Linked DNA regions of Homo sapiens. The protein of the gene in region 1 binds, or shares a complex with, the protein of each later gene. Each region holds a gene or a part of one and is shown in the gene's direction. Other genes may lie near its edges.

Region 1 (16,170 bases):
GCTGAGACAGGAGAATCACTTGATCCTGGGAGACAGAGGTTGCAGTGAGCCAAGATCGCGCCACTGCACTCCAGCCTGGATGACAAGAGTGAAACTCAAAAAAAAAAAAAAAAAAAAAAGAATAGACAGCCGAGATGGATGACCTCTAAAGCCAAAATGAGGAGGCTCAACTTGATTCTCTGGGTAATGAGAAACCATTAAAAGGGGCAGGAGGAGTGGCATGTTGAAGAAAGGTGGTGCTTTAGGGAGATGAATCTGGTAGTACTAAAAAGTAAATTGCAAGTGGGGAGACTAGTTAGGTGGCCGAGGTTTATAATGTAACAGTATTTGTGTTTTGTTTCTGGCTGGAAAATAATTTGATCTTTCCTCAAAACCCTAGATCTTTGGCAGTAGTGGTTAGGAAGTAAGTGGCAAGGTTGTCTGTGATGTAGTGAATTAAGCCAAGCACTAGAGGTCTGAGAGCTGCCACCTTCCATAGGCAACTGGAAGCACTGGCTGTCCAGCACAATGCATGACTTAGCCTCGCAGAAATTTCAGAGTCAAAGACCCTGGGCCCAGAGCTCTCATGGTAAGAGGCTCGAACTCCAAACGCTTGGTCATGAAGATTCACTCTGCCCTAACCTACAGATGCTTATCCAACCCCGCTTTGTGGTATCAGCTAGGCGAGAGGAAAGCATAGTGACACCATTTCCTCACCTTTCAGCCTCCTTGAGATGACCGCTAATGGTTGGCTATGAACAGCAGCCTCCCTCCTTCCTTCCTTTCCTCACTGTTTCTTGCTTTATAGGATCAAGGGGCCATGGCTGCTCAAACAAGTCAAGGCTGGAGATGGGTCTTTGTGTCTTTGTGTGTTTTTGTTCTTCTCTCTACAATTGACTCAGCTCAGCATGGTGTCAGTGGACACATGGGTGTCACAGGGAATAGGAGAAACAAGAAAGGAAAAGAAAAGTTACATCTCTTCTGGATCCTGAGGGATAGCTGTTATGGTCTTGGCCAGTGGTTTCTCCAAAGGCTTCTTTCTAAGGACCTGAAATCCAAGGGCAGGCTGTGGAGTCCAGATAGTAGTCACCTTGGGAGGAACCCTAGGCAGGGCTAGTGTTTGGGGACCAAGCCCTGCTTAAGACTATCTCTGTGTTCAAGCGTAGCAGCAGGGAGCAGTGGCACAAAGTGGACGGAGACCTCACCGCTACTTCCTGTACAACTGGCTCTAGCTGCAGTTTCTCCCTTTTTTCCTTATTCCCACAGAATTGGCCCAGAACCTGAGGAGGCTGGAGCAGGGAAGGAGCAGAGGACTCTGTAGGTCTCCAGGCAGAACTGAGATTTTTCTGTGGCCTAGGAGAGACCACTCCCTGTTCCCTGCCTTCCTTTCCCTGGGGAGATAAGCTTCCTGGCCTCTCAGCCTGGCTAGAGGGATTCTGCCTTCACACAAACCCAGCTGGACCCAGCTGAGCACTGACCGAGAACTGATGTATGTGAGAGGGGCCAGTTCTACTTCAGCCACAGCGAGTAGACCTCTGAAGACCCAGGGAACTGAATTGAATACCGTGTTAGGAAGAGGGCCTGCAGCCTCCATGGTCCTTAAGACTTACCACCACCCAGTGTACAGAAGCCTGTCTACCGCCCCGTCTCTCTAGGAAGGCCAGTGCTAAGACTCGTGGGCCATCCACCAGGACTGAGTTCGAGTTACTGCTGGCAGAATGGTGACTGGTCCCTGCAGCCTCCCTTCTGGGCTTCAGGAATCCCCTCCCAGGCTGACTGCCCCACCCTGAGGCTAGTCTGGAATCCTGGTTAGAGGAAAAAGCTGGAAAACAGAGTCATTCACAATGGGCAAAAAGAGGAGGGAGAGGTTTCTGGTTAAGATATGAAAGGAGGAGCCTAAAGAAGGAAGGAAGGAAGGAAGCTCCAAGGCTCTGCCCAGACATCTTCCCTGAGATGCCTAAGGACAAAAGAGGAGCTAGACACAACTCTCCCCATTTTTCCTTTGCTGTCTTAAGAGTGCTCCATCTTCCAGCACTGACTGCCCTCTGTGGCTGGCTCCTTTCTCTACCCTCCCCCTTCCCTAGGCTAAAGGGCCCACAGGGGCTGGAAGGGAGGGAGGCTGAGTGGCTGTGCTGTGGGCCTGCCTGCTCCTTTCCCTTCCCCCTTCCCTTAGCAGCAACGTCACCGCAGCACCAGCAGCCGCGGCAGCAGCACGGAGACTGGGGCTGGGATTGCGCAGCCTCCCTGCATTAGCAACGATGCCATTGTATTAGCAGAAATCAGATCTTAGGAAATCGGCCCAGTTCCCCTGTGTGATCCCGTGGAACAGTGTCTCAGCTGGAACTGTCGCGGTAGAGCTTGGTCGGAGTGCAAAAGGGACAGACGCATCAGGGGTCCAGCTCAAGGCTCCTGACAGAGGTATGGCTCAGGGAGCTGGGGGAGGGGCAGGGCAGAGATGCTAGGATACCGATCAGCACATTTGGGCCCTGGCTTCTGAGGGTTGGCTTTGTCTTTCCAAAAGGGAGAGGGGGGCGGTGCGGGGGGGGATAAAGGGGGGAACATGCGGAAGCACAAGCATTAGACAAGCTCATTGCATACATTTGGGCTATGGTGCAGAGATGGGGAAAAGCCAAGGCTTGGGCTAATGCCATTTATGCTATTTTGTCAAGAAGCAGATCTCATCCTTCCTTTTTGGGCATTTCTAATGAAGCTTCTAGTATGGGTCAGGGATGGGGGAGTCAGATCTAGAAACAAAGGCTTAATAGGAGGAGACACCCCTACAGCTACTGTAAGTTTATGATGGAGAACATGCAAGGATCCTCGCAGCTTTCAAGAGGAGGGCTGGGAAACCTTTCTCTCCACACACACACATACATACATACATGCATGCATGCATGCACATAGCTATACATGCACATAGACACACATACCATATCTTCTGGTGCTATGGGAGCCACCAGGCTCCAGGTAAGGGTGGAGTAAGAAAACATTGACCAGGGTGCCCCACAGTGTCTGGCAGGGGCAGGGACAGTCATTGTAATGCCTAGGGCACCTGATCTGTTACAGTAAGCCTTCAAGAAGAGACCTAAGCATAAGCTAACACTCCCAAATCTACCCTCCTGCCCTCCTCCCTTTGATCCTACCCAGGAGAGGACCAGTCAGGAAAAGCGTTATCAGTCCTACAGAGGCACCTTATCAGGATCTCAAGTCAAGGTCAGATTGCTAGAGAAGAGCAATTGAAGACCATTGTGTTCCCCATCTTTATTCAGAAGGCCAAAAAAGAGGGAAGGGGTTCTATGACTGGCAGAAAGACACTGATGACCAAAGCTAGAGGAAACCTTCTTTCTGGGGTTTTCCCGCCCAGAGTTGCTCCATTGCTGAGCAGGTAGAAAGAGTTCCCTAAATTCCCATTTCCACACCTGTAATCCCAGCACTTTGAGAGGCTGGGATGGGAGGATCACTTGAGCCTAGGAGTTGAGACCAGCCTGGGCAACATGGTGAAACCCTGTCTCTACAAAAAATTTAAAAATTAGCCAGGCATTGTGGTGTGCACCTGTAGTCCCAGCTACTAAGGAGGCTGGGTGGGAGGATCACTTGAGCCCAGGAGTTCAAGGTGCAGTGAGCTATGATCGCATCACTGCACTGTAGCCTAAGCAACAAAGCTAGACTCTGTCTGTAAAAAATAATTGTAAAAAAATTCCCATTTCTAATAACCACCTTGGTAGAGGGTTCAAAAACATAGGATAATAGGAGACAGTAGTGCCATGTTGTGCAACTATATGGTTAAGGAATATGCTGGATAGTTATGGGAGTGTATTTGTTCCCAGGAAGTGTCTAGGAATGTGAACCACAAGAGCAGGGAATAATGAGCCTTGAGACCATGAATGGGGCAGGGAGATGAGGGCTGGGAACTGGGGCAGGAGGTGGGATTGGCAAGTGTTATCATAGCCTGGGGACAGTATGAAAGGGACTGTAGGTTCATAGAATAGAGAGGCCGGTAGACATAACCTGTGTAAATGGAGGCTGAAATGTGGGTCTACCCAGGACAGGTAGGAAGCAGATGCTCTGGGAGCAGAGTAATTGCAAGGACTTTAGGAAGAGGGTGTGGCCCCAATCATTTTCTTTGGAAGGCCGTTGTAGTGGAAATAATTACAAATTGGGCAGACCTGGGATTGAATCCCATCTCAGATGTGTAAATGTGGACAAACTACTTACACACTCTAAGCTTTGGTTTTCTCATCTTTACAATGGGAAGGATTATGCCTACTTAAAAATGTTACAGTACATTTAGAGATGATATATATAAATTAATGGCACATAAGTGTTTAATAAATGATCACTTATAGTATTATAATAGGACAAGAGACACCCATTTGGGACAAGGGCCAGGAAAAGGGCTCTCATAGAAAGCTTTTCCTGATTTTGGAGAGCATGACCTCATAACTTTATACTGGCTGAGCCCACCATTCCACTCTACCTGGTAGGCATAGCTAGAGGGCTCATCTTCTGAAAGAGCTGTCTTCTACTTTCTTCTTATTCTGGATCCTCTGTTTCTCCCCCATCCTCATCTTCCATGTCTCTCCATTTAGTCAGGGCAGAAAAAGTCTGAAATGAGCTCTTCCAGCTCACTGTTTTCTCTTCACCTTCATTAGAGGGGATGGGCCACTTGTCTTGATGTAGAAAAAGTCACTCCCAGGAAAGGAGCCTGAGATACGCTCTCAGTAAATGTTCTCTGTGGTGTCATATGTACAGTTTACTCTCATTTTTTTTTTTTAAGACAGACTCTCGCTTTGTCGCCCAGGCTGGAGTGCAGTGGCACGATCTCGGCTCACTGCAACCTCCGCCTCCTGGGTTCAAGTAATTCTCCTGCCTCAGCCTCCCAAGTAGCTGGGATTACAGGAGCGTGCCACCACACCCAGCTAATTTTTGTATTTTCAGTAAAGACAGGGTTTCACCATGTTGGCCAGGATGTTCTCAATCTCTTGACCTCATGATCCACCTGCCTCAGCCTCCCAAAGTGCTGGGATTACAGGTGTGAGCCCCCATGCTAGGTCTACTCTCATTATATTCTTAACTGACCAAGAAAAAAGATCAAAAGTTAGGATTCCTGAGTCTCATCTTAATTCTGTTATTTATTCACTGAGTGGTCTTGGGCAAGTCATTTCATTTTTCTGGGTGTATAATTATTTTAAAATTTTTATATATATAAAATTTTTTTAAATTATTTTTATATCATATAACATTTTTTAAAATTTTATAAATATAAAAATAATTCCTTATTTTTAAAAATGAAGATGGCTCTGCCTCCTTTGGAAGTTGATGTAAGGATCAGTAAGATATGCATACATAAAAAGTGCCTTGTAAGTAAATGTGAATGGGGTGGGCAAAGCATGAGTACAAAATCTCATGAGATGCCTGGAGAACTTCCCCTTAGATGGCTGAATTGGAATCGTCTATGGAGGAGCCATTGCTCGGCCTTTCTCTTGGTTGTGTGGAGATCAGAAAGGAATAAGATCTTCTCTGAGATACAAAAGCATAAAATAAAATGAAATCAATCAGTGAAAGAGCTTGACAGTTAAAGTAGGATTCAATACAACCTAAATGTAAAAGCTACAACTATACAGCTTTTAGAAGAAAACATAGGTACATTTCTTTATGGTCTTAGGACAGGTAAAGATTTCTTAGGATACAGAAAGATTTAACCATAGAGAAACAAACTCTATGATCAGTTGATCAATTGATCAATTTAAATTTAATAAATTAAAAACTATTTATCAAAAAACACAGTTAAGAAAACAGGGACAAGCCACAGGCTGAGAGAAAATATTCATGAGGCATATATCTGACAGAGGACTTGTATCCAGAATAAATGTTAAAACTCCTATAATTCAATCATAAAAAGACTAACAACTCAGGTTATTTTAATGGGAAAAGTAGTCAACAAATAACCAGGCACCTACTGTGTTCCAAGCACAGAGTTCACTGTATTGCAGTCTCCAACCTCAGAACTGTGCTCCAGTCTGGGAGATAGATATGTCAACATCACATTACAATACAATTGTCAGTGCCCTCCAGCCAAGGGCTCCGTCATCTCCCACGCTCATGTGTTCTTCATCTCTGATTTAGAGAGTCAGCTTTCTGCATTCTGTATCTGTACATCAGTTTTTCCATATTAATGCATGTATGTCCTGGTAATGGTTTTGTGGCAGAATCATACATTCTTTTATGTGATACTTGTGAATGCCTCTTGAAAATGCTTTAAAAAGGAAGAAAAGGTACTCATTGAAGGTCAGTGATGGCTGCAACCCATAGGTACCCCTAAAATTACTGCTATCTATGTAAGAAAGTTCTCTATGCTCCTTTTAGTCCAGACTCGGGATTATGGCCAGGACTCCAGGGGAAACGTAGTTATGTATGAAAGGAGAAACCCCCTCAAAGAAAAAAAATTGTTTAGGCCCGGCATGGTGGCTCACATCTGTAATCCTAGCACTTTGGAAGGCCAAGGCAGGTGGATAACTTGAGCCCAAGAGTTCAAGACCAGCCTTGGCAACATGGAGAAACCATGTCTCTACAAAAAATACAGAAATTAGCCAGGCGTGGTGGCACACACCTGTGGTCCTAGCTACTCAGGAGGCTGAGGTGGATCACTTGAGTCCAAGAGGCTGAGGCTGCAGTGAGCCATGATCGCACCACTGCACTCCAGCCTCGGTGATAGAGTGAGAACCTGTCTCAAAAAAAAGAAAAAAATTGCTTAAATTATGCATAAAATGGGTATTTATTACATACAAATTAGAAAATACAGCTGAAGCAAAAAGAATAAAATTAAAAATAATCCAAATCATTCAACAGTGATAGGCACTGGTAACAGTTTGTTGCATGTTACAGATTTTCTTCTATGCATACAGACATGTTTATTTACAAAAATGGTGACAAACACCTGGCTAATTTTTGTATTTTTAGTAGAGACAGGGCTTCACCATGTTGGCCAGGCTGGTCTTGAACTCTTGACCTCAAATGATCCGCCCGCCTCAGCCTCCCAAAGTGCTGGGATTACAGGCATGAGCCACCACGCCTGGCCTGATTTCAGGACATTCTATTTCTATGGATTTGCCTATTCTGGACATTTCATATAAATGGAATCATACAACATCACAAAAGCCCTTTGTGACTGGCTTCGATTGTGCCCAATTTTTTGGCTACTGTGAATAATGCTGTTATGAACATTTGTGTACAAGCTTTAGTGTGAACATATGTTTTCATTTTTCTTGGGTATATACCCAGGAGTGCAGTTGCTGGGTCATGTGATGACACTATGTTTAACATTTTGATAAACTGTCAGACTTTTCCAAAGTAGCTGCACCATTTTACAATACTCCCGGCAATGTTTCAGGGTTCCAGTTTCTTCATATCATCATCAACATTTGCTAGTTGTTATTGTCTGTATTTCTTATTTTATCCCTCCCAGCTGGAGTGAAGTAGTATCTCATTGTGATTTTTATTACTCTAATGACTAATGATGTTGAACATCTTTTCATGTGCTGGTTAGACACTTGTATGTCTTCTTCAGAGAAATGCCTATTCATACTGTTTGCCCTGTCTTAAACTGGATCATATGTCTTTTTTTTTTTTTTTTTTTGAGACAGAGTCTCACTCTGTCACCAGGCTGGAGTGCTGTGGCATGATCTCAGCTCACTGCAACCTCTGACTCTCTAGTTCAAGCGATTCTCCTGCCTCAGCCTCCCAAGTAGCTGGGATTACAGGCATGCACTACCACGCCCAGCTAATTTTTATATTTTTAGTAGAGATGGGATTTCACCATGTCGGCCAGGATGGTCTCTGTCTCCTGACCTCATGATTCTCCCACCTCGGCCTCCCAAAGTGTTAGGATTACGGGCGTGAGCCACTGTGCCCAGCCTCGTATGTCTTTTTATTGTTGAGTTGTAAGAGTTCTTTATATATTCTGATTAGAAGTCTTTTATCAGGTATATGATTTGCAAATATTTTCTCCCATTTTATGGATTGTCTTTTCACTTTCTTGGTGGTATCCTTTGAAGCACAAAAGTTTTTGGTTCTTATGGAGTCCAATTTATGTTTTTTCTTTTGTCACTTGTGCCTTTGGTGTCATATCTAAGAAACCATCACCTAATCCAAGATAACAAAGATTTACTCCTATGTTTTCTTCTGTAACCCTTAATCTTGTAGCTCAGACTCTCTTAATATCTGCCCTTCTACATCTCTACCCATTAGCCCATTAAACACACAAAGGCTTGGAAGTTCAACAGAGGAGCCTGCCTTCCTCTCAGAAAGGGGAGGAGGAAGCAAGATTGTAAATAATTGCTGCTTAAATTTAACACAATTATATTTTAATACCTTGTCCCTTATACGTATACTTATTAGCCATATTTTTTATGCATTGTTTGTTCATGTCCTTGAGCATATGTGACTTGCCTCAGACTTTACCACATTCCACATGACGAGCTATGACCCTATGGTCTACATGAGTTAAATTTTAAGAAATTGATTGTGTCAAGGATTCAGTTAAATGATGAATAAGAGAAAGGCAATGAGGGATTTAGACTCAGGGTGAGTGAAAAGGAAATGATAGGAATAAAAAGAGAAAGGAAATGAATGAATTTTGGAACATTACATGTGAGGAGTCGAAGGGAATGAAGACTGTTGCGACCTGAACGTGGAAACACAGGAGACTAGAACTTGAGCAGGCCACACTGCCACGGTGCAGCCAAGAGACCAGAGAAGCTCAGGATGGGTTCTGTGTCCTTGGCACCAGGAGACCTTGAACAAGAGAGAACTTTGCTTTAGCCTATAAGAGGTAAAACTGGGAAGAGAAGACTTTCTAGTGGATCCCAGTAGTGAAGGTTCTAAGCTAAAACTGGGCAGCATTTGGGCACTTCAGGATGTCTGTATCCTGAGCTAGACGCATGTTAAGAATGTATTATGCCTTTCACGTTTATCTTGTGTGATGTGTTAGAATGATACAAAAGACATAAAACTAGGTCCCCCCACCCCCATTGAGGAGGAAGAGGTTGACATCAGTCATACTTGCAGTCACCCTAATGCCCAACTCAGTGTCTGCATTCAAGAAGTTCTAGTATAGTAGTGAGGATAGTAAGGATACTTAGCCCACGGTCATCAGAAAGGGACAAATATTCTGGGGCTTGTAGGACGAGAAAGGGGATCAGAGATAACAGTCACTTGGTCAGATGATACCGTATATTTTAAAATGCTTCTTGCAAAATTATAGCTTATTGCTATGAGTTCATATTATTCATGATTTTCCCTCTTGGCTGTAAACTTGTGTGCTATAGCTGTGTCTAAGCCTTAAACATCCTAGATGGTTTTTTCTTAATTGTGTCATTATTCATAGTTTTTTTGTGCTAAGGACTGGTCATTGTTTACTGCCAAGGAGAGGGTCCTTGAAAGAGAAAGGGAAAGTACTGCCCAAACCTTCATATGTGGCATTAGAAGGACTTGGCCTTTTGTCATAATTTGATGCATAGTGACCTTAAAATTAAGGGGGACCTCAGGTGCTGCACCTGTGCAATGCAGAAAGCATGGTTACGTCCCCACCTGCCTATTGGGCTGTGTGGTCAAGCTCCATCTTGACTCAAGCCTTTTCTCTTCCTGGGCTCTTCTCCATCTGAAAATGATGTAGGGAAGGGCATGCCCCTGACTTCCAGGGAGGTGACATTAGGTTCCCTTTCTTTCCCTCTCTCTCCAGGTGCCAAGCTCTCCTGATGAAATGTGTTCTGCCCCACTGGGCTCCAGGGACAGTGTCTGGTGCTGTTGAAGCCCTTATTCGAACTTTCCAGAATGGATAGTCCCCCAAAGCTGACTGGAGAGACCCTCATCGTTCATCACATCCCCCTGGTGCACTGCCAAGTCCCAGACAGGCAGTGCTGTGGAGGGGCAGGTGGAGGTGGTGGGAGCACAAGACCTAATCCCTTCTGCCCACCTGAGCTGGGCATCACCCAGCCCGATCAAGACCTAGGACAAGCTGACTCCCTGCTATTCAGCAGCCTGCACTCTACTCCAGGAGGAACTGCACGGTCTATAGACAGCACCAAGAGTAGGAGTCGGGATGGAAGAGGCCCTGGAGCCCCCAAACGACACAACCCCTTCTTGCTGCAGGAGGGTGTGGGTGAGCCAGGACTTGGTGACCTGTATGATGACAGCATTGGTGACAGTGCCACCCAGCAGTCCTTCCACCTGCATGGCACTGGCCAGCCCAACTTTCATCTATCCTCTTTCCAGCTGCCACCATCTGGCCCCAGAGTGGGCAGGCCATGGGGGACAACACGCAGTCGGGCTGGAGTGGTGGAAGGGCAGGAACAGGAGCCAGTGATGACCTTGGATACTCAGCAGTGCGGCACCAGCCACTGCTGCCGGCCAGAGCTGGAAGCAGAGACTATGGAGCTGGATGAGTGTGGGGGACCTGGTGGGAGTGGCAGTGGGGGTGGAGCCAGCGATACCTCTGGCTTTTCCTTTGACCAGGAATGGAAGCTCAGTTCAGATGAATCCCCAAGGAACCCTGGATGCTCCGGCTCAGGGGACCAGCACTGCCGCTGCAGTAGCACATCCAGTCAGTCCGAGGCAGCTGACCAGTCCATGGGCTATGTGAGCGACTCCTCCTGCAACAGTTCAGATGGTGTGCTGGTCACCTTCAGCACCCTCTACAACAAGATGCATGGCACCCCCCGTGCCAATCTCAACTCTGCCCCACAGTCCTGCAGCGACTCTTCCTTCTGCAGCCACTCAGACCCTGGCGCCTTCTATCTGGATCTGCAGCCCTCCCCATTTGAGTCTAAGATGTCTTATGAGTCCCATCACCCTGAAAGTGGAGGAAGGGAAGGGGGCTATGGTTGCCCTCATGCCTCTTCTCCTGAGCTTGATGCCAACTGCAACTCCTACCGCCCACACTGTGAGCCGTGCCCAGCAGTGGCTGACCTCACAGCCTGCTTCCAAAGCCAGGCCCGTCTTGTTGTGGCCACACAAAATTACTATAAACTTGTCACCTGTGACCTATCTTCCCAATCATCCCCAAGCCCTGCTGGCTCTTCCATCACTAGCTGCTCTGAGGAACACACCAAGATAAGTCCCCCACCAGGCCCTGGCCCAGACCCAGGCCCCAGCCAGCCCTCTGAGTATTACCTATTCCAGAAGCCAGAAGTCCAGCCAGAGGAACAAGAAGCAGTGAGTTCCTCCACCCAAGCAGCAGCTGCTGTGGGCCCCACTGTGCTTGAGGGACAAGTATACACGAATACTTCACCCCCCAACCTCAGCACTGGACGTCAGCGCTCCCGCAGCTATGATCGCAGCCTGCAGCGCAGCCCTCCTGTCCGCCTGGGCTCGCTGGAACGTATGTTGAGTTGCCCAGTGCGCTTGAGTGAGGGCCCTGCAGCCATGGCCGGGCCTGGCTCCCCACCCAGGAGGGTCACCTCCTTTGCCGAGCTGGCCAAGGGCCGGAAGAAAACTGGAGGCTCTGGCTCGCCCCCACTTCGTGTGAGTGTTGGGGACTCCTCCCAGGAGTTCTCACCCATCCAAGAAGCCCAGCAAGATCGGGGGGCCCCACTGGATGAGGGCACTTGCTGTAGCCATAGCCTGCCACCCATGCCTTTGGGGCCAGGCATGGACCTACTTGGCCCAGACCCAAGTCCACCCTGGTCCACCCAGGTCTGTCAGGGACCCCACTCCAGTGAGATGCCTCCTGCTGGCCTCAGAGCTACTGGGCAAGGCCCCCTGGCTCAGCTGATGGATCCAGGGCCTGCTCTCCCAGGGAGCCCAGCCAACAGCCATACCCAGAGGGATGCAAGAGCTAGAGCTGACGGTAAGGAGCCTAAGGGTTAGCAAATATGTGGCTATTCACCAGCAGGATATGCATGGCCACCTCCCTGACAGGTCCCTGCCAGACCACCCCATCCATACCACTAGAGGTTCCACATCCTAGATCTGTTATCCTTCTAGGCCAGGGCAGGACCCACAGCTACAGTGGAATAGGCTCACTGGAGAAAGACAGAGGACTCAAAAATACACTGAGCAGACTGGGTGCAGTGACTCACACCTGTGATCCCAGCCCTTTGGGAGGCCAAGCCAGGCGAATCACTTGAGGTCAGGAGTTTGAGACCAGCCTGGCCAACATAATGAAACCCCAGCTCTACTAAAATAAAAAATAAACTAGCCAGGAGTGGTAGCACCCACCTGTAATCCCAGCTACTCAGGGGGCTGAGGCAGGAGAATTGCTTGAACCCAGGAGGTGGAGGTTGCACTGAGCTGAGATCATACCACTGCACTCCAGCCTGGGCAGACAGAGTGAGATTCTGTCTCAAAAAAAAAAAATAAATAAATACACTGAGGAGATAAAATCAGCAGGACTTAGAGGCTGACATATTGGGAAATGAAGGATTCAGAAGACTGATTCTGAACCTGGATGATGGGAAAGATGAGGCCATGGATAGGGGCTGTAATCACAGGAGATTTCCTGGAAGAAAAGTTCAGGTTCAGACCTTTAGGAGTTTGCAGTGCCTAAGGGGCAACCAAGGGATATGTCTAACAACAACAACACACACACACTGGGCGTCAGTGAAGTTTTTTTTTTTTTCTTTTTGAGACGGAGTCTTGCTCTTTCGCCCAGGCTGGAGTGCAGTGGCCTCCCTAGGCCAGCTCTTTCCCTATTTATTTTGTTACATTTTAAATAAATATTTTATACCAGTGTGTTAAGGTGGTGCTAGTGACAGAGAGATGAGAGGGATGACTCTGTTTTCAAGGATTCCAGCTAAGGACAGAAACAGAAAACGTAGTTGATCATTAAAATGCAGAGATGGCAGTGTTCCGTACTGGCCAGTGAAAGGGGTATGTAAATCAGACTGAAACGTCAGGGAGGAACTGCTAATGCAGTTACATTTAAGCCCAATCTAGAAAGATGATTAGGATTGGGCTTTGTGACGACTTGTAAGAAGAATGTTCTAGGCTCACAGGATTGTCTGTACAAAACCACAAAGGCACAGAATAGCTTGACCCTTTCTAGGAACTGCATATAATTTGGTGAAGCCATAGTGGAACACAGGTGGAACCACTGAAAAATTTTAGAGAAATGGCTTTTGGCATTTGTTTGTTTTTGTTTGGTTTGGTTTTTCTGTCTGCTTAATTATATGTTTTGATTTGCATTTAGAAAGATCACTGGTTGGTTGTTCCTTCAGGCCTTGTTTAAAAAAAAAGTAATTGGGCTGGGCACAGTGGCTTACACCTGTAATCCCAGCACTTTGGGAGGCCAAGGCGGGCGGATCACCTCAGGTCAGGTTTTCAAGACCAGCCTGGCCAACATGGTAAAACCCCATCTCTACTAATAATACAAAAATTAGCTAGGCATGGTGGCGCATGCCTGTAATCCCAGCTACTCTGGAGGCTGAGGCAGGAGAATCACTTGAATCTGGGATGGAGATTGCAGTGAGCCGAGATCACGCCACTGCACTCCAGCCTGGGCAACAAGAGCGAAACTCCACCTCAAAAAAAAAAAAAAAGTAATTGGATCACTGGTTGTTTGGGTAGAAGATGGACTGGAAGGGGTGTCTTCCTGAAGTCAGGAGAAAGCACTGTGTAGATTGGAAAGTCATTGGAATAAAAGTGGTAGCTGGCACTTGCTGGGCGTGGTGACTCATACCTATAGTCCCAGCACTTTAGGAGACTGAGGCAGGCAGATCACCTGAGTTCGGGAGTTCAAGACCAGCCTGGCCAACATGGTGAAACCCCATCTCTACTAAAAATACAAAAATTAGCCGGGTGTGGTGGTGCACGCCTGTAATCCCAGCGACATGGAAGGCCGAGGCAGGAGAATCGCTTGAACCCAGGAGACAGAGGTTGCAGTGAGCCTAGATCATGCCACTGCACTCCAGCTTGGGAAACAGAGTGAGACTCTGTCTCAAAAATAAAAAACAAAAGTGGTAGCTGAAGCTATGTGTGTGGCTGAGAGAGGATCCAGGGAGAATGTGTTGAGTTATAAAGGGAAGAAGGGGATACTGTGACTTAAGGGATGAGCAGCACCCTCAAAAGAGACAGAAGAATTAGGACAATAGAAGAAAAACCAGGAGAGGCCGGGCATGGTGGCTCATGCCTGTAATCCTAGCACTTCGGGAGGCCGAGGTGCGCGGGTCACCTGAGGTCAGGAGTTCACCAGCCTGACCAACATGGTGAAACCCCATCTCTACTAAAAATACAAAAATTAGGTGTGGTGGCGGGTGCCTGTAGTTCCAGCTACATGGGAGGCTGAGGCAGGAGAATCGCTTGAACCTGGGAGGCAGAGGTTGCAGTGAGCCAAGATTATGCCACTGCACTCCAGTCTGGGTGACAAAGTGAGAGTCCGTCTCAAAAAAAAAGAAAAACCAGGAGAGAGTGAAGTCACAGGAACCAAAGGAGGAGAAAGTTTAAAAAAAGTTTGAACCAAAAGAGTTCTAAAGAGAAATCACCTAAGATAATGAAGAATCCTGAAGGCAACATTCAGGAGTAGTGAGAGTGGAAGCCAGATCTCAGAGGGTTTAGAAGGAAAGGGAGGTAAAGCAGGGATAGCAGAGGCTCACAGCTGTGCTGTAGCCTTAGGTTGGGTCTGTTGGCTTCACAAAAGAAAATGTTTTAAAACCATAAATAATATCTGTGCTGTCAGGGAGATCACAGTCCATCAGAAGACTTCATGTTCCTAACATACACTGAAGAGCTGTCCTTGGGGTGGGCATGGGAGGGAGATCTCTAGGGAAGGGGCAGGATCAGAAACAGCAAGGATTGACTGGGTCCTTTGAACCCACTCCCTTAGACTGCAGTGTCTGTCTGCTGGGTGCATCTCGTGGGATACTATGACTGGCATTCTGAGGGCAAGAAATATCCTGGTCAGAGATGTGTTTTCTCTATCAGATTAAGACATATCAACATGCTGCTCTGTTCCATAAGTCTCCAGTCTTCTCTTGATTCTGTACAGCTTTTTTCTAAATCAAAAATGAATGACAATTCATCAAGCTTTGAATGACAAAAGAAGGGACAGGTTGATCCAATCTAGGAATGACAGTATAGGAAGCTGAGAAGGTCGGCTGGGCATGGTGGCTCACACCTATAATCCCAGCACTTTGGGAGGCTGAGGCAGGAGGATCACTTGAAGCCAGGGGTTTGAGACCAGCCTGGGCAATATAGTGAGACCCTGTGTCTACAGAAAAAAAAATTTAAAAACAGCTGGGAGTGATGGCACATGCCTGTAGTCCTAGCTACTCGGGAGGCTGAGGCAGGAGGATCGCCTGAGCCCAGGAGTTTGAGGCACAGTGAGCTATGATTGCACCACTGCATCCCAGCCTGGGCAAAAAGTGAGATCCTGTCTCTAAAAAAAATTAAAGTAGGCCAGGTGTGGTGGCTCATGCCTGTAATCCCAGCACTTTGGGAGGCTGAGGTGGGGAAATCATTTGAGGCCAGGAGTTCGAGACCAGCCTGGCCAACATGGAGAAACCCCATCTCTACTAAAAATACAAAAATTAGCTAGGCATGGTGGCGCACGCCTGTAGTCCCATCTACCCGGGAGGCTGAGGCACAATAATCGCTTGAACCTGGAAGGCGGAAGTTGCAGTAAGCTGAGATCACGCCACTGCACTCCAGCATGGGTGACAAAGTGAGACTCTGTCTCAGAAAAAAGTAAATTAAAAAATAAAAATAAAAAAGGCAGCTGAGACGGCTCTTTGAGATACTGAGCAGCAGAATCAAGATTTAAAGGGATCTTACTGAATCTTGAAAGAACAAAACTAATAAAGCAGAGACCAATGTGAAGTTTGATATGTAACCTGCACTTGAGTTGATTTGGGATATTTGATTGCAAACTCAGATTGAGTCAGCAGTTGGTAGAGCTTCCAAAAAGTTAAGATGACTGGATTCATTCATAGACTCCAGAAAGAAAGAGTGGATAGTCTCTCACTCCTCCGAACCAGTGAGTGCTCAGTGGTATTCCATTGAGTTCTGGGTACCACATCTTAAGAAGGAACTGAGGAACTGGGGGACTGGGGCTATTTAACCTAGAGAAAAACTGACTCGGGTGAATACGGTCTCTGTCTCTGGTTTTCTTAATGAATGTCACATAGAAAAGTGAGAAAACTTATTCTGTGTATTCCCTGAGGGTAGAACTAAGACCCATTCCCCACAGGGGCCCCCTTC
Region 2 (16,210 bases), on another chromosome or scaffold:
CATCAGGCTGTCTGCAAATGTGTTCTCCACCACCAGTCAGCTATGGGGAGATACGGGAAAAGTTTCTGTTGAGGGGCATGAGCTGGGAAACCTGTTAAGCTGTGAGACCATCTTCACTGTTTCCTCCAGGGTCTTGGATCAGATGCTGATATCCACCTGTGGCTTTTAGCCCCCCTTCTGCAACTGGGAGGGGAACCTGACGTACTTAGAGGTATCAGACACTCATTAAGCAAAATCCAAAGGAAAAACACCAGATACCAGTTCCAGAAACTGGAGGAGGATGAGCTCTCTGTTCGGAATGGATGGAGCTTGACTGACAGACGGGGATGACTCGAAGGCTCCCAGAGCATATTGAGTTGCATTCTCTGAGTCTGGAAGGAGGGTGTGAGCTCCCAGGAAGTGAGCCATGAAGGGCTGTCATGGACATGCCAGGGGAGCCCACAGAAAGGACCTTGTCACCCCAAAGTCCTAGCAGTCCTGAGAACAGCAGCCCAGACCAAGCACCCTGGGGACATTGAGGTTAGCAGCAGAGAAGCAAAAGCTGTTTGTCCTGGAGGCTGGTAGAGCTGTTTCACCTTGGGCAAGTCATCTGACCTCCCTGGGCCGGTTTCCTCTTATGTACAATGAAGAATTTGGAAGAGAAGCTCTAAAAATTTATTCTCAAAGTTATTCTGTAGGTGGTGGTACTCTCTAGGTTAATGGTACTTACAACAGATGACATTTGCTATCATTTCATTTAGTCCTCTTAACAGTTCTATGAAGCGGGTTCTCAATACTATTTTCTAGAGGAGGAAACTGAGGCACAGAGAGGCCACTCGCCCAGGGTCATATGGCTAGTAAATGGCAGCCTGTCCCCAGACCTCTGTTTTTAGCCTTTCTCTTAACTTCTCCTATGCCGGCTAGTTAGCCATCAGCATTTTTCATTCTTTAGAGCCTCCAGAACTTTTCCATCCAGGTATATACAGGAAATTAGTACGTGTATAGCACACTAAGTGAACAGCTCCAGCCGCCTTGCCCAGGGATGCCACCCCCTCCAGACCCTACCCAGCTGCTCTGCAGGCTGTGGGGAGGAGGACCTCACTCCACTTAACAGGACACTGGCTGGGAAAGTCTTCAGAGAAAGCGGATTATTCTCAAAGACTCGCAGTGATCCTCCAGGGGAGACTGTCCCTCTTTCTCTTCTTGTGTCTGAAAGTCAATGACAAAGTCATATTCCCTTATCCAGAGAAAACTGAAAAAGTTCTAAACTGAGCATTCCCAAACCTTCACCTAACTCTGGGAGCCTCAGGAATCATGGGCAGCAAGATTATTTTTAAAAGGTGGGGGTATTAGGCCGAGGCGGGCGGATCACCTCAGGTCAGGAGCAAGACCAGCCTGGCCAACATGGTGAAACCCTGTCTCTACTAAAAATACAAAAATTAGCCGGGCTTGGTGATGGGTGCCTGTAGTCCCAGCTACTCAGGAGGCTGGGGCAGGAGGCGGAGGTTGCAGTGAGCCAAGATTGTGCTACTGCACTCCAGCCTGGCGACAGAGCGAGACTCCGTCTCAAAAAAAAAAAAAAAAAAAAAAAAAAAGGTGGGGGGGTATTGTTAAAACATGGTTCACGCAACCCTTCAAGGAACCAGACCTTCAGGTACATTCTCTTTGTCCAACACTGTGATGCGGGAGGACTTGGGAGAGTGGCAGGGAGGCTGCAGATTTGACAGTTTTGGGTGCAGGGATTGGAGACATTATTTGACAGATTTTGAAACACAATTGGCAGTTAGGAATGTTTTTCCTCAATGTATGGCTCTGTGGATGTGTCTCAGATTGCTTCAATAAGGAAAAAGAGGAACCAATCTAACTTAAAAGGTCTAAGTTCTAAAATATTGTGAAGGAAATGTAGATACCGCTTTAAAGTTCTAGTGCAGGATAGTGGAGCCACAGGGACTTCCAGGACAGGTTAGAACCTTAATTTCACTGCTTAATACTAAGCTGTGTGATCTAGACCATGTTCCTTAACCTCTCTGAGTGCATCCCCTCACCTTGACAGCGCAGTCTCACCGTGTTGTCATCTGTGTTGAATGACATAATGCACTTTGCACAGAGCCAGGCACACATAGGAGGTTCTGGATACATGGATGGTGACAGTGAAACAAGGATGATGGGGAATGAGATTGATTTTGAGAAATGATGATGATGACTATGTTTGATTCTCCAAAATGCTGAGTGTACATACATCAGCACACAGATGGTCTCCACTGTGCATGGGCAGGAAGGCACATTACCACCACTTAGATCGGTGCTTCCCACCGTCGTGAGAGAGAGAGGCCGGCAGGACGTGGTCTTTATTTTATGAAGAGTAAAGTTGAGGTACAGGTGGCAAGGAGCATCTCTGAGGTCACATTGGCAGAACTGGGAAAAAACCCATATTTCTTGATTCTCCGCTCACCAAGCCCCAGGGGCATTCTACAAAAATAATTTGGAAGGTGAATGTAACAAAAGTGAAACCCACGTTCTTGGCCTGTGACTGGGTTTCACTTTTTAAGAGATGGAGCCCAGTTATTTCACAGGGTGGCTCTGAGTTGCCCCTAGGTTCTGTTAGGAAGGGTCCCTGCTGCCTGCCCCAGGGGAAGGGGAGTGTTGATGTCAACACAGCTCAAGACACTGGAAAAACTGGTCTGAGGGATGATTGCCTCAGAGGGATTTCTAGGTGAGACCTTCCTGATTGTGCCTGAATGGATACCCCAGTCCCTGTCAGGTTCCCTCCTGTGAGCTATTTCTCTAGTGAGATGGCGGCCTGGTCACAGGGACAATTAGTGCATGATAATTCCTCAGGGCTGTGCCCCGCAGTCCCACAAGAGAAAGCTGTGGGTTTTGAATGTATTTACATTAGATCTTTCTTACCACTTGGGTTCCCACAAAAAAGGGAGCTAGGAAGCTGGGGTGCAGGATTCAATCTAGCATTTCGCAAATATTTTGCCCTCAAGACTCCTTATTTATTTACATGCAGGGTACTGCTCTGCCGCCCAGGCTGGAGTGCAATGGTGTGCTCATGGCTCACTGCAGCCTTGAACTCTTGAGCTCAAGTGATCCTCCTGCCTCAGCCTCCTGAGCAGCTAGGACTACAGCCACACACCACCACACCTGCCTAATTTTGTTTGTTTTTGAGATGGAATCTCACTCTGTCGCCCAGGCTGGAGTGCAGTGGCGTGATCTTGGCTCACCGCAGCCTCTGCCTCCCAGGTTCAGGTGATTCTTGTGCCTCAGCCTCCAGAGTAGCTGAGATTACAGGTGCCCGCCACCATGCCCAGCTAATTTTTTTTTTTTTTTGTATTTTTAGTAGAGATGGGGTTTCACCATATCGGTCAGGCTGGTCTTGAACCCCTGACCTCAGGTAATCCACCTACCTTGGCCTCCCAAAGTGCTGGGATTACACGTGTGAGCCATCGTGCCCAGCCTGGCTAATTTTTTAAATTTTTTTTGTAGAGATGAGGGTTTCACTATGTTGCCCAGGCTGGTCTTGAACTCCTGGCCTTGAGCCATCCTCCCTCCTCAGCCTTCCGAAGTGCTGGGATTACAGGTGTTTGTCACTGTGCCCAGCCGGGATCCTTTTATATTTTGAAATTTTTTTGAGGACACCAAAGAGCTCTTGTGTATACCTATCTTACCTATTGATATTTAGCATCTTAGGAGTCAAAACCAGGCTAGGCACAGTGGCTCATGCCTGTAATCCCAACACTTTGGGAGGCTGAGGTGGGAGGATGGCTTGAGGCCAGGAGTTCAAGACCAGCTTGGGCAACATAGTGAGACTGTTGTCTCTACAAAAAATTTAAAAATTAAAAAAAAAAAAAATAGCAGCCAGACGCAGTGGCTCACACCTGTAATCCCAGCACTTTCAGAGGCTGAGGTGGGTAGATCACCTGAGGTCAGGAGTTTGAGACCAGCCTGACCAACATGGCAAAACCCCGTCTCTACTTAAACAACATAAATATTAGCTGGGCATGGTGGCATATACCTGTAATCCCAGCTACTCGGGAGGCTGAGGCAGGAGAATTACTTGAACCCAGGAGGTGGAGGATGCAGTGAGCCGAGATCATGCCACAGCACTCCAGCTCCCACCTGAGTGACAGAGCAAGACTCTGTCTCAAAAGAAAAAAAAAAAGCCAGGCATAGTGGTGTGGTGGTGTGTACACCTGCAGTCCCAGCTACTCAGGAAGCTGAGGTGGGAGGTTCACTTCAGTCCAGGAGGTCAAGGCTGCAGTGAGCCATGATCGTACCACTGCACTCCCAGCTTGGGCAAGAGAGAGACTCAGTCTCAAAAACAAACAACAACAACAAAGCAAAACTGTTCAAGTGGCATTGTTCCACATTTTTTTAGGTTTCTAATGTCTGGATTCGCATGTCAGCTCTGCATTTGGTCTGTTGTATCACATGTCATGTAGGCTCTGGCAAACACTGTACAGTCATAAGCAAATGAAAGTGAAAAAGGCAAATCACATCTTAGTATTGTGAACATGTTTTGACTCTGAAGATCCTTTGAAAAGGTCTTAGGGAGCCCTGCGGGTCCTCAGACTACACTTGCAAAACCACTGATTTAATAATATAAAGGTTGAGTGAGAAAATTCCTGCTAAACGGTTTGGAGTCAGGGGAAGAAGCTGACCCTGAGTTAGACCCCAAGTTTGGCCCACACCCCAAAAAGTGAACTCAAGAGAGGGTTCAACTAATTGTATCTGACATTCTGTCCAACTCTCACACTGTGTGTGTGGCTTCACTTTAATTCAACAGGTATCAAGCACCTACCAGGCACTGGGTCTCCAGAGGATACAGATAAAGAGATGGTCCCTGGAATCATGGAACTTACATTCACTTGATTTCTGGGGGCTACATCAGGGCAGGGCAAGGCCCACTGCCAAGTCTCTTGGTGTGGCATCAGGCTTGCAGGTGTGGGAGAAAGGGCCCGTTTCCACTTCCATCAGAGGGAGACACCAGGCATCATATCATATCCTCTCTTCCTTCCCTCTTGGACCAGTATGCTGAGTGGTCCCCATCTTGCTCCTAATTTAAAGTCCCTGTCGGTCAGTTTACCTGCCTTCTCTGAGTTCTGATTCACCACCCACTGCTTCCTTCCTGGATGATCACAGCACACGTTCCCTCCCTTGCTACCTAGCACTCAGCAGCTTTGAAGTCCATGTTGCTGTCTGAAATAATGGATTTCACAGGTCCCTCCAACCTCCACTGCACTGATCTTCATCCCTGACACTGCTACCCTTGAGGGCCTGAGGTCCCCCTCTCCTTTACCCACTTAGCCTTCTGGTTGGTGACACTTTACTTCCCAAAGCTCTTTGAAGCGCCCTTAGCTCATCTTCCCTCCAAATATTCACTCCTTATTATTTCCTGGCTGCTAATCCTCTGCTTCCACTATCCTGAAAAATACTTCATGAGCCCCACTGCTCTCACCACCAAGCATTGTTTCTCTTGTCATCCACTGCCAAACTTCCTGCCACCTCTGTGGCTCCACTGCCTGCTTCTGCAAACCTCAGCGTGCTCCCTGCTTTACTTTTCTCCTTGGACATACTTGGTGCCTGTATTCTCTATCAGAATATAAGCTCTATGAAAGCTGGGATTTTAAAATTTTACTTACTGCTGAATCCTCAGCTCGTAGATCAATGTCTGGCATAGTAGGCCCTCAAGTATTTGTTGAATGAGTGAATGACTTGTTCCCCACTAAACTGTAAACTCCGTGAGGACAGGAGCTTTGTTTTGTTCATGTTCTAGCCTCTGTGCCCACTACAGTGCCTAACACCTAGTAACTGTGCAAATTTTTTTTTTTTTTTTTTTTTGAGATGGAGTCTCGCTCTGTCACCCAGGCTGGAGTGCAATGATGCGATCTTGGCTCACTGCAACCTCCACCTCCCAGGTTCAAGTGATTCTCCTGCCTCAGCCTCCCGAGTAGCTGGGACTACGGGCGTGTGCCACCACACCCAGCTAATTCTTTTGTATTTTTAGTAGAGATGGGGTTTCACCATGTTAGCCAGGATGGTCTTGATCTTCTGACCTCATGATCCACCCGCCTCGGCCTCCCAAAGTGCTGGGATTACAGGCGTGAGCCACTGCACCCGGCCACTTAATATTTACTGAATTAAGGATGAATCCAGTTACCAGGTAAATTACGTGATTTTTTTTTTTGGAAGCTGCTTTGTCTAGTTTATAAGTTTGCTTATTGTCTTTTGCATCTGTCCCTGCTGTTACCTTACACCCAGGCTTCAGCAATAACCTTTAAAGCTCTGCAGCTGAAATCCATCCTGCACCCTGCCAGATTACTTCACTAAAATATTTTGAGATTGCCTCTTTGCTCAAAAACTTTCAATGCCTCCTCATCGTATTAATAGTTTCTAATGTGCAAACAGGTGGTGTTGCAAAAGTTCATCTGTAAGTTAGCTGTTCAGAGCAGTGGAACAAAGTTTCCCATTACTGGACACACTGATCCTTTAGGTCACACAAGTTTACATATGTATACAGTGAGAAGGAGAAAGAAAGCTTAACATAACTCATCACTGAACTGTAGTTTAAATAAATGTCTAACAATGTTTCCAGAAGAAAATGTGCTGATTCATTTTGAGATGCCAGGCACATACCCTGGCCTGCAGGGAATTCCCCTCCAAGCCAAATGATGATTCTCATAGACTGTGACAGGGACTGTCTAAATAGACACTCAAAGCTCTCCTATTCCAGTGCCATCATGACATCTTTATGATAAAATCTTCTCCCCATCATTCTAACTAAAAGCTATAGCTTTCCTCCTCTGAAGTCTAGACTGCATATCTGACAGCTTTTCTATCTACTGTATTGTCTTATACTTTCAATTTCCTCATGAGTATGTCTTAACTCTTGATGAGGCTGTGAACTGGTGAGAAAAGGCTCTGTTCCTTTTTTTTTTTTTTTTTTTTTAAGACGGAGTCTTGCTCTGTCGCCTAGGCTGGAGTGCAGTGGTGCAATCTCGGCAACCTCTGCCACCCGGGTTCAAGCGATTCTCCTGCCTTAGCCTCCCGAGTAGCTGGGATTACCGGCGCCTGCCATCGTGCCCGGCTAATTTTTTTTATTTTTAGTAGAGATGGGGTTTCACCATCTTGGCCAGGCTGGTCTTGAACTCCTGACCTCGTGATCCTCCCGCCTCAGCCTCCCAAAGTGCTGGGATTATGGGTGTGAGCCACAGCGCCCGGCCTAAGGCTCTCTTCTTATAACCTCTGCAATCCGTGGCACATAAACACTCATTAAATAGTTACCAAAGAAATGAAGGAATTTATGCCGATTGCTTTCCAGATGACACATGCAGGCAAAGTCAGGAATCTGGTTTTAATGGCCAATTTGGATTTATTTCCCAAAAATATCCTACAGCCTTATTATCAGGAAGCTGCCTTGAAAATGTGTGCTAGAGTCTACAGTAGGAAATGGCTCAAAGTATGAATCAGTGCAAAATGACCTTGAGTAACATTGGTTACAGTCTGTCACATGCCTACATGTGCCAGGTAATTTACAAACATAACTCTAAAACAACCATTCTGTGAGGAAACGGGGGCTTTGAGATAGTGTGATGTGACTTACCTAAGATCACAAAGCTTTTAAGGGATGGAGGCCAGGATTCCAAAGCTAGCATTGGAACGAAAGTCTTCCCGACACCAGCCCAGGTTGTGAAGATGAGCTAGGAGGACCTACTGCCTCGCTGGCTGGTTAGGGCTGGGCGTGCCTCCCTGGTGGAAGGAAGGTACATACCTTCCTTCTCCCCCTCTATTTCCTAAAACTGCTGAGTCAGAGGATGGCCCTAACCTTCCCGACCAAGGGGGACTTTCTATCGGGAGCACATGAGCAGCTCTTCTCCCTAGCCAGTACCTTCAGATTCCAAGCTCATGTTATTTCGATATCACCACACTGATTCTCAGCTCCCGGAAAAACAACTCAAGGCTTGAGTCAGACACTCCATGTGTTGTTCAATGATCCCGCCTGCAACAATGTTTATTATAACCAAAAAATATAAACAGCATGAATGTCTATTAATAGCGGAGTGGTTAAATAATAGTACATCCGATGGTTATCGGATGGAGTACCATACCACGCAGATGTTAAATGATAAAAGTGTACTGTTAAATAGAAAAAGCAAGGTATGTACATATATGTTTGTACAGGCAAAGGAAATTCACTGGGGGGCACTTATTCATTCAACAAATATGTGTTAAGCATTTTAAGGTTACCTGTGAAACTAACAGGGGTTACCTGTGAGGAGTGCTTCAGAAGGAAAAATAGTAACTTGTACTTTTCAGTAAACTTCTGCACATAATTTTAAGGACGAACATTGTTTTTTTTTTTTGAGACGGAGTTTCGCTCTTGTTGCCCAGAATGGAGTGCAATGGCGAGATCTCAGCTCACTGCAACCTCCGCCTCCCGGGTTCAAGCGATTCTCCCGCCTCAGCCTCCCGGCATTGCTTTTTATAAAGTCAAAAGAAAAGGAAGTTTGATAAAACAAGTAGAACTATCCGATAAATACTCGCCTGGAAAGGGACAGGATTATAAGAAACAGGTAATAAGGAGCTTAAAACCCTCTGCAGTTCTGCAGTGAGGATGGTCGTGGGGGCATACAACTTTCCGTTTCAGGTCAGTTTAGGTAGGGCAGGTGGGAACTCACTCTAAAACGAGAAACCGGGGCTGATGACAAAATGCACACGTTTAGCTTCTGGCGGCCCAGGTCTTCCTAGCCGCAGATTCTGAGACGTGTATCTGCAGGTGGTGTGAAATTGAAGCCGGGGGAGCGGTTGCTTTCGGTCTCCGAGGTGCGCCTTGCACACTGGGTCATTCAGCTCCCAGGCTCGGCTCGGAGCTGGACCACTCCCTCCCCTCCACCAAAGAGGCAATGTGGGCTCCAAGAGGTCACAGCGCTGGGATGGGATTTCGACCCCGCGCTGCCCTCAAAGGCCACCTCCTCGCAGCTCTGCTCCCGCCGGCAGCTCCCGTTCTGTCCAACTCGGAAGCCGCCCGCCGCCCTCGGCGTCCACTCCACAGGCCCGGGGCCGGGGCCAGCTCCGCGGGGGAGGGGTCGGTGCGGAAGGGGCGGGGTACCGGGCCTTCCCCGCGCGACTCTGCCTTCTACGGCCCCGGCCCCTGCCTCTGGAAACCCGGAGCTCGTGCGAGCCCCGCCCCACGGTCGCGGCGTGCCTGTCATTTCCTCTCCGCAGGGCGTGCGGGTCTCGAAGATGAGGGAGCAACAACGTCCACGACCGGGCTTCTCCGGCACCTTGGGCTTCTTTCCGCTGGGACTCGACAGCGGCTCGGCTCCGCAAGCTCTCAGCGCCCAGGGTGGCGGCGACGACGCTCCCCGAGGAGACGCGAGGAAGACGGGCCCGCGCTTGCTGGGACTCCGTCAGGGCGCGTGCGCGACCCGGGCGCGGCCGGCTCAGGCTGCGGCTGCGCAAGGCGGTGCCAGACGCTGCGCCTGCGCAGTGGTGGGGCGGGGCGGGAAGGAGGGAGGCGGTGGTAGCGGCGGCGGCTGCTGAGGAGGAGGAGGGGGAGCGGAGGGAGGTGTTTCTGTCAGTTCCGGCTGTTTGTTCGGGAAGTGGATCCGCCGCTGCCGGAGCAGCCCGAAGGGAGCTGCGGATCGCGAGGCCAGTACCGACCCCGCCCGCCCGCGCGCACCGCCCCCGCCCGCCATGGCCCGGGACTACGACCACCTCTTCAAGCTGCTCATCATCGGCGACAGCGGTGAGGGCCGCAGCGGCCGGAGGCGGCGCGGGCCCTGCCGGGCGCGGCCCGCGGGGGCCTCGGGGCGGCAGGCGGGCGGGGAGGTGCCGGCCCGTGCGGGGCGGGCGGGCGGGGCAGCCCGGCGGTCTGGGCCCCAGGGGTGCGCCGAGGGGCTCCGGACCGCGCCGAGGGGAGGTTGGGGCGCGGGGCGGAGGGGCCAAGCGCGCCGGGTCCAGTCATCGCGCCTGTTCCTGCCTCACGTGTGACCTTGGTCAAGTCGCGCGATCTCTGGAGTTGGAGAGACGTGGGTTCGAGTCTCAGGACTACCACCTGCCTCGCGCTGACCTTGGGCAAGTTGCTTCGCCGTCCTGAGCCTCAGTTCCCTCATCTGAGAAGTGGGGATGTGCCTTGCTGGGTGGTGTGAGGATTCGATGGGATAAAGTAGGAAAAGTGCGTAGCGCCCTACCCGGTAAAGTAAGCTCGAAGTAAATGTTCACTATTGTCATTATCATCAGTATCCTTTATAAGCGTCAGTTTCTTCCCATCTAAAATGAGGACGTTCTCAGAACCTGCCTCATGGGATTGCCGTGAGGTTTAAATGAGGTAAGTCGGATAAAGGGCTTTGCACAGGGTCTGGCATATTCCTGCTGAATTATTATATCCCTGCGTGGTTCAGTTTCCTCATCTGTAAGATGGAATGATAGTTGGATCTGCCTTATGGGGTTGATGTGAGTATTAAGTGAGATTCTGCAGTGTTGCTCACAGCTCCTGGCACATAGTGAGTTGTCACTGTTTGCTGTTACACTACTATATACAGAGGGGTCCTGGGGATGGGACAGCCAAAATTATAAAAGTGCTTTGGCCACACACACACACTGCTTGAGGGCTCCTAGCTCTGATCACTGCTCTAGCTCCAGTGCCTAGAACAGTGCCTGGCACCCAGTACATGCTTAAGACATATTTGCAGAAGGAATTAATGAATATTAAGTGTCCTTCGAAAAGGTAGACTGGTTTCTGGGAAAAGGTGGAGGGTTTTAGAGCTGTTTGGAGTGTGGCAGGTGAGCAGGTTTATGGAGTGACCAAGAGGTCAGGAAGGCAGGCCCCAGAAGGTTTATGGGAGCGAAACTGAGGTGCTGGGGTTATATGATGTTCATGAAAGAGTCTTGGGAGCATGCTCAGTTTGTAGACCAGACCTGAGCTGAGTGTGGGGAGGGATGTCTTATGATTGGAGGCAGAGGCCAGGCTGGTGGTAGAGCCCATGGACTGTTAAGGAAAGGGGATCAAATCAAGTGAGCGGTATGACTTGGGATGTAGGAGTGTTGGGTAGCGATGTCAGAGCTAGGTCAGGGAAGTGGGTGGTTTTGGCCTCCCTTTTAAAGCTGGATGGAGATGTGGTTGGTGGTTTGGATCAGGTGAAGGATGGCTGAGGTTTCCGTGGTTGCTGGAGGAGGGGAGAGGTAAGGGGGAAAGCTGGGGGCTAACCAGGGAGATGGAAGAGTAACTGAGGTTGGGGAAGGAGGTAGAAAGGTGGAGTACTGACTGGTTATGGTTTGAATGAAGGGAAACCAGGCAAGCTCTGGAGTGTTCTCTTGGAGATGGCCTTTGGTATTCTTCAGGGTCTTGAGGCTTCTTCCTTTACATGATTTCCTTGCAGCCCTGGCCTGGGTTCTGAGGGACTGGCACTGGGGCCATTTCTCTCTTTTTGGAGTGACAGCCCGCCGTGGTCAGGAGCCTTTATCCCTCTGCAAGACATCTGGACCTCTGCGTTGATATCCAACAGTGAAAAGCCTAAACTCAGCAGGAAGATGCAGCTTGTTGGCTCTTCTCCTCTGTAAAGCCCAGGGGATGGGTTTGGCCCGCTTTCTCACAGTACATTTTGTGTGATGAATTGATTTTTCTCTCCGAAGTCAGGTGTGGGAGAAGACTCATTGGGTCGAGATTTATGTGGTCTAGCTCCTAGGTCAGCCATGTAGGCGTAGGTTGTGCAGAGGAGATGGATGCTGTGCTCTTTGATTTCTCCCGACATTGAGATCCTCAAAGCTGGGAGATGGTAGCCATGGAAGTCCAGACTAAGCTTTGGCAGCTGAGCCCAGAGACTGACATTACACACTCCCCTGAACTGGGCTCCTTGTGTGAATGCCTCCTTAAGATATGTTGAACGATTTCACAGACGCTTATTCTCACCCGCCCCCTGTGTGATTTGTCAAATAAGGAAACTAAGGCTTAAGGCCGGGCGCGGTGGCTCACGCCTGTAATCCCATCACTTTGGGAGGCCAAGGCGGGCAGATCACCTGAAGACAGGAGTTTGAGACCAACTTGGGCAACATGATGAAACCTCGTCTCTACTAAAAATACAAAAGTAGCCGGGCATGGTGGAATGTGCCTGTAATCCCAGCTACTTGGGAGACTGAGGCAGGAGAATCGCTTGAACCTGGTAGGCGGAAGTTGCAGTGAACCAAGATCGCACTATTGCACTCCAGCCTGGGCGACAAGAATGAAACTCCGTCTTAAAAAAAAGGAAACTGAGGCTCAGAGGAGGTGACTTACTTGCCCCAAATCACATAGCTCAGCAGGGGCAAAGCCGGGAGCCACTGCATCTCAGTGCTAATACGTGTGCGAGCAGCTCATGTCAGGGCTGGCAAACAATAGGCCCTCCATGAATGCTGGTTTCTTTCTTCATAAATCTAGAGTTCTGCCCACTCTGCACATTGTGGATGCTTCTGCAATGGATTCCCTCAATCTCTGCATCCCTTCGTTATGCCGGAGGTTCTATATTTTCTTTTTTTCCTTTTTTTTTTTTTTGAGACGGAGTCTCGCTCTGTCGCCCAGGCTGGAGTGCAGTGGCGCGATCTCGGCTCACTGCCGGCTCCACCTCCCCGGTTCACGCCATTCTCCTGCCTCAGCCTCCCGAGTAGGTGGGACTACAGGTGCCCACCACCATGCCCGGCTAATCTTTTGTATTTTTAGTAGAGACAGGGTTTCACCATTTTAGCCAGTATGGTCTCTATCTCCTGACCTCGTGATCCGCCCGCCTCGGCCTCCCAAAGTGCTGGGATTACAGGCGTGAGCCACCGCGCCCGGCCAGTTCTGTATTTTCTATACTTTCCCTTATACTCTCTGACACTGGCTTTGATTTGTAACAGCATGTCGTCTGCATCCCTCAGGCCAGCCATCCTCATTTGGAGATGGAGTTAGCCCTTCACTTGACAGATGAGTAAATTGAGGCTCAGAGAGGGGGCGTGACTTGTGTGAGGTTATACAGTGAGGTGGTGGCTGAGGCAGGTTTAAAATTGAGAACATGGCTGGGGGCAGTAGTTTGTCCTAGTGCTTTGGGAGGATGAGGCGGGAGGAACACTTGAACTCGAGACCATAGTGAGAGCAACATAGTGATAGCGAGACCCCATCTCTTAAAAAAAAAAAAAAAAAAAGGCCGGGCACAGTGGCTCACACCTGTAATCCCAGCACTTTGGGAGGCCGAGGTGGGCAGATCACCTGAGGTCAGGAATTCGAGACCAGCCTGGCCAACATGGTGAAACCCTGTCCCTACTTAAAACACAAAAAATTAGTTGGGTGTGGTGGTACGCACCTGTAATCCCAGCTACTCGGGAGGCTGAGGCAGGAGAATCATTTGAACCCAGGAGGCGGATGTTGCAGTGAGCCGAGATCGTGCCACTGTACTCCAGCCTGGGGGACAAGAGCGAGACTTCATCTCAAAAAAAAAAAAAAAATCAGTTGGGCGTGGTGGTGCACATCTATAGTCCCAGCTATGTGGGAGGCTGAGACAGGAAGATTGTTTTAACCCAGGAGTTCAAAGTTACAGGGAGTTAGGATCACACAACTGCACTCCAGCCTGGGTGACAGAATGAGACACTGTCTCAAAAAAAAAAAAAGGTCCAGGCACGGTAGCTCACACCTGTAATCCCAGCACTTTGGGAGGCCGAGGTGGAGGATCACTTGAGCCCAAGAGTTTGAGACCAGCCTGGGCAACATAGGGAGGCCCTGTCTCAACAAAAAGAAGAAAATTAGCAGGGCATGGTGGTGCACGCCTGTGGTCTCAGCTACTTGGGAGGCTGAGGTGGGAGGATCTCTTGAGTCTGGGAGGTTGAGACTGCAATGAGCTATGATCACGCTGCTGCACTTTAGCCTGAGCAACAGAGCAAGATCCTGTTTCAAAAAAAAAAAAAAATATCGAGAACAGTTCACTGAAAGGTCAGGGCTCTTCAAGAGGTTGAACTGAAGCAGAGAGGAGTGAGGGGGCCATAGCCCAGGCAGGAGCAGGAGGAAGGGAAGACATGTGTGTGGCTTGCGTGGTGAGGACCAGATACAGCAGCCAGGGGTAAAAGGCCGGGAGCAGTAGCTCACTCCTATAATCCCAGCACTTTGGGAGGCCGAGGCAGGCGGATCACTTGAGGTCAGGAGCTCGAGACCAGCTTGGCCAATGTGGTGAAACCCTGTCCCTACAAACAATACAAAAAATTAGCTGGGCGTGATGGCGGGCGCCTGTAATCCCAGCTACTCCGGAGGCTGAGGCAAGAGAATCGCTTGAATCTGGGAGGTGGAGGTTGCAGCCAAGATCGCGCCACCGTACTCCAGCCTGGGCGACAGAGTGAGACTCCATTTAAAAAAAAAAAAAAAAGAATGACAGGCTGGACTGGTTGGGGTCATGCTGATGTGCCCTTGGGCAGCCTCGGGGGTGGCTGTGGTGAAGGTTGGTGGGTGCCCTCTGCTCCTGCCCTGACACTGATGGTGTGGGGTAATGGCTGCAGCTTGTGTTTCCGAGGAAGCCTCTTCCAGGGATATTTAGGAGGTAGTGTTTCTTGGGGTGGGTTTCTGTTCCTCTCAAAGGGAGAGCAGTGTCAGAGGTTGGTGTCAGGTCCAAAGCAGCAGATAATGTGGTGATGGTTGTGGTCTTTCTGCAGCCTAGTGGCTTTTTTTTTTTGAGATGGAGTCTCGCTCTGTCGCCCAGGCTGGAGTGCAGTGACACGATCTCAGTTCGCTGCAACCTCCGCCTCCTGGGTTCAGGCGATTCTCCTGCCTCAGCCTCCCGAGTAGCTGGGATTACAGGCACGCACCACCACGCCCGGCTAATTTTTGTATTTTTACTAGAGGTGGGGTGTTCATCATGTTGGCCAGGATGGTCTCGATCTCTTGACCTCGTGATCTGCCCACCTCGGCCTCCCAAAGTGCTGGGATTACGGGTGTGAGCCACTGCGCCTGGCCAGCCTAGTGGCTTTTAACTGCTCTGCCGAGACGCCTGGGGACAGTATGGGGACCTGGAGAGGCCAAGCTGGAGGGGATACTGCTGTGTCATTGCAGAGAGAGCTGTTTTACACATGGGATTTGGGTAAAGCTTGGATGAAGAAAAGGATTCTGCTGCCCTGCAGAAGTTTGGAAACCCCTGCTTAGGCGCCTGCTGTGCTGCAGTGGGAGCGCTGGATAGCAGAGCTGTCAGTGTGGCGGGCGTTCGTTTAGGCAGAAATTCATTAAGCAGTGTTTGGTTGGCACCTACTAAGTGCTGGGCCTGGCTTACAGCACTGTGAATGCACAGGGCGGGTGAGGCGAGGGCTCTGTCCTAGAGGAACTCCCAGACTCAAGCTTTTAGCTGAGTAAGCTGGACCCAGAAGGCTCCAGGAGGAAGCAGAGGAGGCGGCGAGGCCAGTGGGGTGCTGGTGTTGGGCACAGCGCCGTGAAGGACCCAACCCGGGACTCGGGCTCTCCTTGAGCTCAGCAGGAAGCCTCACGGCGGAGCAAGGAGGAAGTGGCCCTGAGCATGAGCCCTGCAGGCCCAGGCTGAGCAGCGTCTGCCTGCCCAGGAGAGCCTCACCCTGGCCTGTCTTTAGGAAAGTAGGACCCAGGCTTACTCAGTGAAACAAGTTCTTCTGGGCATCGTGGGGCAGCTCACTCACCAGGAGAAGCTCCCAGAAGAGATCTTTAGAGGATTGCCCAGAGAGGATGCTGGGGTTAGGCTTAGGGAAATACAACTGCGACAGTGGTTTTCCGCTTTGGTTACTTGGTAGAGTGCAGGTGGAGGCAGTGCCCTTCTTGAGAATCTATTAAAATTGTGGAGCCAAATGCAGTGGCTCAGGCCTGTTAGCCCAGCACCTTGGGAGGCAGAAGCGGGCAGATTGCTTGAGGCCAGGAGTTTGAGACCAGCCTGGGCAATATAGTGAGAGGCCATCTCTACAAAAAATTTTTAAAGAGTTTGCTGGGTGTGGTGGCGAACACCTGTAGTACTTGGGGATTTCAAGGTTAGAGTGAGTTATGATCGCACCACTGCCCTCCAGCCTGAGAGACAGAGTAAGGCCCTATCTCTCCAAAAAAAAAAAAAATGCTGTGGGCTTCTCCCATGAACAGACACCTAGGCTCAAATCTGCACTTTGTTTCAGGGGGTTTCATAGCTTTCGTGGCATTTTCATTAAAAATCTAACAGGAGTGAGATGTTGGAGCCCCCACAGGTCATTTTTTCCAAACTTCCTGAACCAGACGCAAGACTCCCAGCAA

Evidence for each region.
Region 2: the proteins of RUSC2 (region 1) and RAB35 are in contact, whole or in part, in a crystal structure (PDB 6IF2), measured with the Homo sapiens proteins. Residues at the interface, in NP_001129471.2 of Homo sapiens: Val997, Lys998, Asn1001, Asp1005, Val1008, Thr1013, Arg1015, Lys1020, Glu1119, Glu1155, Leu1158, Leu1159, Gln1161, Pro1162, Leu1165, Leu1166; in NP_006852.1 of Homo sapiens: Asp4 (codon at 9,688), Tyr5 (codon at 9,691), Leu8 (codon at 9,700), Phe9 (codon at 9,703), Lys10 (codon at 9,706), Ser22, Leu26, Asp30, Ile38, Thr40, Val43, Asp44, Phe45, Lys46, Ile47, Lys58, Gln60, Trp62, Thr76, Arg79, Gly80, His82.

Annotation. Positions count from the first base shown.
Region 1 is NC_000009.12:35,536,712-35,552,881, forward strand, and holds part of RUSC2 (AP-4 complex accessory subunit RUSC2), read left to right. Parts: intron 1-1,245; exon of another isoform or gene 1,246-2,397; intron 2,398-9,718; 5' UTR 9,719-9,810; coding exon 9,811-11,824; intron 11,825-16,170. UniProt on the Homo sapiens protein: Associates with the adapter-like complex 4 (AP-4) and may therefore play a role in vesicular trafficking of proteins at the trans-Golgi network.
Region 2 is NC_000012.12:120,110,119-120,126,328, reverse strand, and holds the start of RAB35 (ras-related protein Rab-35), read left to right. Parts: upstream 1-9,575; 5' UTR 9,576-9,678; coding exon 9,679-9,730; intron 9,731-16,210. UniProt on the Homo sapiens protein: The small GTPases Rab are key regulators of intracellular membrane trafficking, from the formation of transport vesicles to their fusion with membranes.